Linked DNA regions of Homo sapiens. The protein of the gene in region 2 purifies or fractionates together with the protein of the main gene of each other region. This does not show direct contact. Each region holds a gene or a part of one and is shown on either strand. Other genes may lie near its edges.

Region 1 (3,766 bases), on a different chromosome or scaffold from region 2:
CAAAATTTAATTTTTATTTATACATTCATCCGTTCAATACACATTTCAAGAAAGCTGTATTGCACCCTTTCAGTGGTAGTTACAGGACAAAGAAACAAAATAATCCAAGAGAGAGACCAACAAATGTATATTTATAACACAGAGTAATAAACACAAATAAATGTGGAGTTATTTAAGCATGTAAGATGGTACATGCTCTACCAGGTATGGGGGCTTCTCTAAGACACAAGATCAGATTAAAGTCTTGAAAGATAATCTGGGGTTAGTCAAGCAGGTAGAAGTGTGAAGAGCACTTTCTGAGCGGAATCTCCATGTGCCAAGTCTAGTTCAAGAGACTGGATAGAGATTAGCAATTTGGAGAATGCAATATTAAGAAATGGCAAAGGTGAGCCTACAGAGATTCCAAAGTTGCATAGTGAGGTTTGTGTTTGAGAAAGTGGACTCAGGCAGCCACGCAAAAGAGGGATTAATAGAAAAGGAGACTGAGGTAGGAAAATCAAGGCATTAGTGTTGCAGCAGGTGTGGGCAGAGTTGGGGAGGCAATGGGATGGATTCATGAGCTATTAAAAAGGTCAAAGGAGCAGGGATTCATGACCCATAAGTATTAATTAATACAGAAGAAGAAAATATCAGAATGAGTTCTAAATTAGGGCCTGAGCAGCTAGATGTTGGGATAATAACAAAAAGACTGCAAAAGGAGAAGATTTACACTTTGGCAAAAAATGTATATGAAAGTATCTGGGAATTTTATGCCATCATTAAATCTACTTATTATGCTGAAAATCCTTGTTAGCTGGAAAGACTAAGAGAATTCCCCAAGGTGCCTAATATATAAACTTGGAGTAGTTTTCCTACTTCAACTTTTATGCGGCTTATTATTTGCAGTCAATTTATATTTGGTCAATATTAGTTAATTCATTTATCATCTCTGTAAGATTGGTTAATGGAAGCAGATTAAAATCCAACAGTGGTAATTTTCTGGAAGTCCTCCAGAGAGACTACAAAAAGCCAAAAGTCAACTTTAATTTTTGAGTACTTTTCCTATTTAAGGTTACTGAGATAAATTGTCTTTGCTAGAAAAAAATAAACAGTATTGCCAATTAAAAACTCCATTTACTATAGAAATATTCCTGATTATTTTACCTTTGGGAAGCAATGCTTGTTGCTTGAAAATTGTATGAGCCTCAATGGTTAGTGGTGGTAAAATGGAAGAATGCATACTGCAGATGGGTTACACATTTGTTTGTGTTCTATATTCCAAGTCACAAATACACTGCTTTGAATTGTATTTAGTCAAACAGCAGATTTGACTAATATTTCCCTGAATTCAAATAGCTTAGATTAATTAAGCTAACTGATTGGTTATCTACCATTATATAGATATTACCCAAGTAATGTTGTCAAAATAATAATTAATTAAACTAAAATAAATGTATGGCCCTGAGACCAGAATAAAATGAAAACCAAGAATAAAATGAAGTTTGCCATTACCGGGATGTATTCAAGTTCAGCAAACTTATATGTGTAGTTAAGATGCTTTACAACAAAATATTGCATTTTGTTATAGCAACAAAGTATTGAGCAGCTTCCAAGTCACTACCTTATGTGTATTATTCATACTAGTAATATTGGTAAACATTAGTGATACAATTTTCACTACCAAAATTTTATTATATTTTTCTTAGCCAATACATGGAGCAAATTTTTATAAAGTATTTCTTGTCAAATCATTGAATTCCTCCTCCCCAACCTTTAAATTCCCTAGTCGCCAAGAATCTTGGGTTCCACACCACCACTCTTTGCTTCTGTTCTTAAAGTTGTTGCCCTTTGAGCAGTGGGACACTTCATGGTCATTTATGTTATCTAGTATCTTGTGGTATGATTTTAGTATTCATTCAAGCATTGACAACTTTTCATGTTGATTCAGATTTTATAAGATTTGATTACAGTGAGTTTATAAAATATTTCAGTTATATATGCAATAGAAACGAAGTATCCTATTTTGGAAGATAAGTCTAAGGCATTCACAGCAATAAAAAAGAAGTGCTTTAGTATTTCTGGACTTCAGTCAAGGGAATTATTATTGTAAAGCACTAATAATGCAGGTTTAGATATTTAACCAGCCATAGATACCAGGAAGCCAGGTGTTAAATCAAAGAACCAGGAAACCATGAGCCACAAAAGCATCAGTGTAGCAGTGTTTTAAGTATTACGACTATATGGACCTGCACCCTAAAACATAAACAATGGTGTACCTTATGAAGTTAAAAACCCTATTTAAGACTAAGAAGCACTTTAGCCTGGTGGGGAAAGCAGTGGTTATGAGTGGAATAAAGACTGGAAAATTTGCTTTTGTAGTGCAGAGCTTTAGAGCAAGCACAGTTTTATTTATTTGCCTTAAACCAATATTTCCGGATAAAAGGTATATTTTTCTTGTGGAGATTGTAGAATAACTATCATTAGCAAAGGCAGAAAGTATTCATTTCAACTTAGTAAAGACATATTTTTTCACTATCACAGAAAGATGACCTTTACATAAAAATTGTTACATATACTTCCATAGATACTAATAGTAAGTATGATTTTTTTTTAAAAAATAACTTTCTAAGACAAATGGCAAAGGCTTTCTTTTTCATGAATTCTTTGGTTATAAACAGGTTTTGAGTGATTTTTGTTCTATGAAGTATTAAGTGATTCTGCTGATATCTGTTCTGTGTGTCCTTTGAAGACCAGAATATAATTAATTTTATTCTGGTCTAACATATTTATTCTGATTTACATTGCTTTTATGTAACATAATTACAGAATGAAAATATACCTTTAGATCTGACATATATCGTTGATGAAGCTCCTGCTGAGCATGTTGCATAAGCTTTTCATCCTTTTAAAACTAAAAACTCAGAGGCTCTTAACAGGAAGGATAAACAAAGCTGAAATACGAACTCTGTATATCTTCCAATGATTCTCGACATGATGTTTTGTATTCACTGGCCCAGAGACTCCTGAGTTAAATAAAGCATAATCAAATATAATTAGTATGTTCTGGTTATTTTATAGTAACTTACTATCACTTTAGCAAAGCAAAAAATACTGGGAAGTGAGGGATCCAATCTACTGCCAAAACAGAGCTCCTACTCTAATGTTGATGAACTAAAAATTTTGAATCTAATCAGCAAAGAAAGTTAGCTTATATGCATAAGTTTATACCCCCAAATATATGGGAATAAATGAAACTAAAATAACAGAAAATCCAGAAAATTTTAGAGGAAAACAAATAAAGCTACATGAAAAATTGTAAAAGAAACTAGTCCGTGGTGATAAAATAAAATATGTAGCCAGTGCAAAAGATTTACTTCTAGATTAGTTGCTATGTGCCCTCTGGTGGAAAATGATTTATTTTTGTATAACTATACTGTATATTTTCCCCTATAATAGTGTTAACAAGCATATTTGAGCACATCATAAATGACCAGATCTTTTATGGAACTAAAAAAAAGTAACTGATTGATAGATAGCCTATGTATATTGAATTTGACCTTTTATTTGGAATATCATTCAGAAGTAACTTACATTTTTTCTATGCCTGGGGACATTATTTTCTATACCATTGCTATCATCTGATTTCCTGCACAGAAAACAAAAAAGAAAATTACTAAATGCTTATATTATATAAAATTAAGTCAGTACATCACTGATATGGCTATCAGGTTAAAATGTAAAATGTCAATACGGACAGAATTCTTTCTTCCTAAAAATGTTTTACTTA
Region 2 (4,523 bases):
CAATTGTAATTGTTGAGACTCCAATAATTCAGTGGCTCAAACAAGATGAACAATTATGCTCTTTCACATACAGGTCAGAACGAGGCCTGTTACACAGTGTGAGTCATGGGAGGGTGGCTCTCTTTCTCAAGGCCATCCAGTAAGCTGGCTTCCTCTGTCTTGTTAGTCTGCCACCCCCTGGAGTGCTGCTTTCCTCCGAATTAGCAAATCTGGTTTGCCAACACAGTATCTGCCTTCCAGGTATGGGGAAGGCACTAAAGAAAATTGGAGAGCCATCAACTTACTGTTTTAGCCACAGGGCCACACCAAGCTGCTGGGAGATGGGAAGTGTGGGCCAACTTACCCAAAGGAAAAAGGGGAGAGTGGCTGCTAGAGAAAGAGCGTACCCTAGGAAATGTTCCAGGGAGAAGCACCTTCCCCGCACACGCATTAAGAGACACAATGACGTAGTATGACCTTCTGGGGGCACTACACTAGAAAAGGGAAGAAAGCCTCAGATGGGCATGTGTACAGCTTCCTAAACACACTGCACATGCTTACTTCCCTGGGGTAAGGAGGGCAGCCCACCCTAAAGGAAGAATCATGGGAAAGTGGTGTGAGATGCTGGAAGTGGGCCAGCCTATGAAGGCCTAGCATCAAGGTTAAACATTTTGCACTTGTACTTGAAGTCATCCACTTGGGTGTCTTCTAAGTGTGCTTTCCTTTCTTTCCTGCTCTAAAGCTTTTAATAAACTTCCACTCCTGCTCTGAAACTTGCCTCAGTCTCTTTTTCGGCCTTACATCCTCAGTCAATTCTTTCTTCTGAGGAGGCAAGAATTGAGGTTACTGCAGACCCATATGGGGTAACTCAGATACATTTCCACTGTTAACAATTTTACATAAACTTTTAGAGATATATTATCATTAGCTCAGAGTAACACAACTAGTAAATGGTAGAGTCAAGGTTCAAACTCAGGTCTTTAGACTTGTGTATCTATTGAGCCAGTAAATGAGAGTGCCTAAGACTGCCCCCAAATCTGGTCTCTTTTCCACCCCACCAAATTACCTCACAATCCCATTGCTTCCTTTCACACCACAGAGGATATGTGTGGAAATCTATCAACCCAGAAGAGAACTGAGGTTTCATTCTGTGAATTTCTAATAGAAAAATTGCATGCCTGATTAAATACCTATTTGTTAGATATTTAATATATATTTTCTTCTATTAGGATATTCCATTCTTACTTTCATTGGGCAGGTTGCCGAAATGGTCATGTAATCAGCCCTTGGGGTAATATTCCCTGATCCTCAGCCTGTTTTGCACCTGTGGTTTAGCTTTTCCCAGGAGGATATGTAATAGTGAGGGAGGGGTGGATGAGAATTAAATGATTTCTTTTTCATGTGACTGGGAGGAGCCCTTTATTCCAGCCCCTGCCCAACTCCATTAAAAGCAATCACTCCCCCTGAACAGCCACAGAGCAGGTTCTTTTACAGGGAGCCACCATGGCTGATAAATCCAAATTTATTGAATACATTGACGAAGCTTTAGAAAAATCAAAAGAAACTGCACTCTCTCATTTATTTTTCACCTATCAGGGGATTCCTTACCCCATCACCATGTGCACCTCAGAAACTTTCCAAGCGCTGGACACCTTCGAAGCCAGACATGATGACATCGTGCTAGCATCTTATCCAAAGTGCGGTAAATGACAAGTCGTTTCCTACAAGTACACTTCTCATAGTGAGTAGGTTGGGGAGGGTATGAGACAAAGGTGGGATGAAGGCGGTTCCTCATTGCAGGAATCTGTCTGAGCATCAGTGAGGAGGAGGGCCACAGTGGTTAAGTACGTAGGTTGTAAAATCAGTAAATAGAACTGCTAGATTAAAAAACTCCAGTGTCTGAAGGAAGAGCTCTGTGCGGAAAGGCCATGATGGAGGATGGAGGGCAGAAGGGGGTGGATGACGGGCCTGGAAGGGAGGAGCATGAATGTGGGAAAGTCCAGTTGGCAAGGAACAGTGACAGTAGCAGTGATTTTGTCTTGATTTCTGGCTGGACAAAAGCACAGCCACTTCTATAATTTACATGATGATTTCCATGTTATAAATTATTTTTCAGGATCAAATATTGCTCCATCAGTTTCTCAAATCACTTTTACAAAGATCCTTCATCAACGGAAAATAAGACATGAAGAATCTAGATGATCCTGCTTTCTACCATCTCCTTTTGATTCTTTCTACTGTTGTTTACTAAAGCCAACCTCATTTAATATCTTTTTTTCTTAACTGATGCTGTGTTTTCATAAAATCAAAATTATAGATTCCTGTAGAAAATACATATTAATTTAATGTAAAATAATATATACAACTTATAATAAACTATTTCTATAACATAACATTGTCCTATAAGAAACATATTCTAGATTCAAAATGAAGCATTGTCCCTTGTTAAAGGAGCCATCTGTTCTCAGTTGAATTTTATACTAATTATAGGTAAATGCTGTTTTCAATCAAACCATTTCTTTCCATAGCCCAAGTTATTTCAAAGACAGAAGAACTAAATATACACATCAGGGAATGGTTGTAGATTTTAATTTTTATCATGTATATGCTAAAGTAACGTCCTTTTGTTATATCAAGACTCCGTAATGAGTTTTTATTCTCTGATTTTTCTGATAGGTTCAAACTGGATTCTCCACATTGTCAGTGAATTAATATATGCTGTTTCTAAAAAAAAGTATAAATATCCAGAATTCCCAGTTCTTGAATGTGGGGATTCAGAAAAATATCAGGTTAGTACAACCAGCCTTTAACCTTACAGCAAATTATCATAGAAAGATTTCTTCCGGTTTGGAGATTCTTTAGTTTTCAGTTTAGAAAGTGCAATGCTAATAATTACCACAATTTACTGTGTGCTTACCATATCCTCAGCACTGTTCAGGTATCATCTCATTTTCTGCAAAATAACCTTATTACCATTTCACAAAAGATAGAAATGCTAGGGACTTGCCCAAGGTCAAGGGACTAATAAATGATAGAGCCAAGATTTGAACCCAAGTTTTCCAGTTTGAGCTTTTAACAACTATACTGTATAGCCAGGCTGTTTTTGTTCTTTTTATTTTAAGTAGGGGGAAAGTAAGCTGAGAAACCTCAGGAAATGAACAGAAAAGTCTCATCTCTGAAGACATGGACCTGTGCAGGATGGTAGTAGGAATCACCAGTCTTTTCCTAGTAAACCATGATTTCTATTTGAAATGGAGTCTCACTTCATTGCCCAGGCTGCAGTGCAGTGGTGTGATCATGGCTCACTGCAGCCTCGACCTCCTGGGCTCAAGCGATCCTCCTGCTTCACCCTCCTGAGTAGCTGGGACTGCAGGCACGTGCCAGTACACCTGGTTAATTTTTTTTAATTTTTTTTGTAGAGGTAGGGTTTCATTTCGTTGCTCAGGCTGGTCATGAACTCCTGGGCTCAAGTGATCCTCCCACCTCGGCCTCCCAAAGTGCTGAGATTATGGGCATGAGCCACCGCACCCAGCCAGACATGATTTTTGATTTCCCTATCTCAGTTATGATTCACGTGTGTGTAAGGGATGGGAAGGAATCAAGCATTAGCTCAGAGAGTACGCCACTGATGTGTGTGAAGGGGATAACAGGTCACCCTAGCTGTTGTTACTTACCTTCCCAATACAACTAACTGGGTCTTGGATGTGAGATAGGATGTTCTACTCCCTGCCCAGGGAAGGCAAGAAAGGAGTGGGAGGATGGTCTACCTCAGGACTTCAGGGCTTGGACAGAAAAAAGACATGGAAGACAGCCTCTCCCCACTCCTAGACACACCAGAATGCAGCGGGGAAGGGAAGGCTGTATTCAAGGGGGAACCACAGTCTCAGTAAAACTTTCAGCAGTGTTCACCACCAAGATTCCCAACAGGCAGAGAGAACTCAGCTACTAACATAAAGCCACTGGATTGGGACTTAGGGAACAGCTTCTGGAAGGTGACTGAGACACTGGCATGATGACAAATACAAACTTGAAAGTTGGAACCTAGATGGAAGGAAGCCCATTTCCATGGATTAGGTCAAAGTAGCAGAAAAACACATGGTAAAGGGACTCAGAGGAGGGTGTTTTGGAGGTAAGTGCCGAGCCCTGGATTTGGTTGGCAACAAAGGAGCAGGGAGGGTCACCTGTACCAAAGCCAACCTGATGAAGGCTCAGCTGAGACAGGCCCAGGAACGTAGGATGGACCAACAGGGGCAGTAAGAAGCTTTGACCTAGGTAGGAAATAAAGGAAAAGCCCCATAGACTTCTCCTGTCCAGGCCTTTGCATAACCTTTTTCTAAAGAGAGTGCTTAACATCACCTTTAGAAATGATGCCAACATTTATCCAGATTTCAATTTCTCTCTCTCTGTTTTTTTTTTTTTTTTTTTTGAAATGGAGTCTCACTCTGTCACCCAGGCTGGAGTGCAGTGGTGCGATCTCGGCTCACTGCACCCTTCACCTCCTGGGTTCAAGCAATTCTCCTGCCTCAGCCTCTCGAGTAGCTGGG

Evidence for each region. The genes of interacting proteins can lie anywhere in the genome.
Region 1: the proteins of SULT6B1 (region 2) and EMB purify together in Homo sapiens (affinity purification with mass spectrometry; one large-scale study listed by BioGRID and IntAct). This does not show direct contact.

Annotation. Positions count from the first base shown.
Region 1 is NC_000005.10:50,396,289-50,400,054, forward strand, and holds part of EMB (embigin precursor), read right to left. Parts: intron 3,626-3,766; coding exon 3,571-3,625; intron 3,003-3,570; coding exon 2,985-3,002; 3' UTR 1-2,984. UniProt on the Homo sapiens protein: Plays a role in the outgrowth of motoneurons and in the formation of neuromuscular junctions.
Region 2 is NC_000002.12:37,185,600-37,190,122, reverse strand, and holds the start of SULT6B1 (sulfotransferase 6B1), read left to right. Parts: upstream 1-1,452; 5' UTR 1,453-1,482; coding exon 1,483-1,681; intron 1,682-2,655; coding exon 2,656-2,768; intron 2,769-4,523. UniProt on the Homo sapiens protein: Sulfotransferase that utilizes 3'-phospho-5'-adenylyl sulfate (PAPS) as sulfonate donor to catalyze the sulfate conjugation of thyroxine. Involved in the metabolism of thyroxine.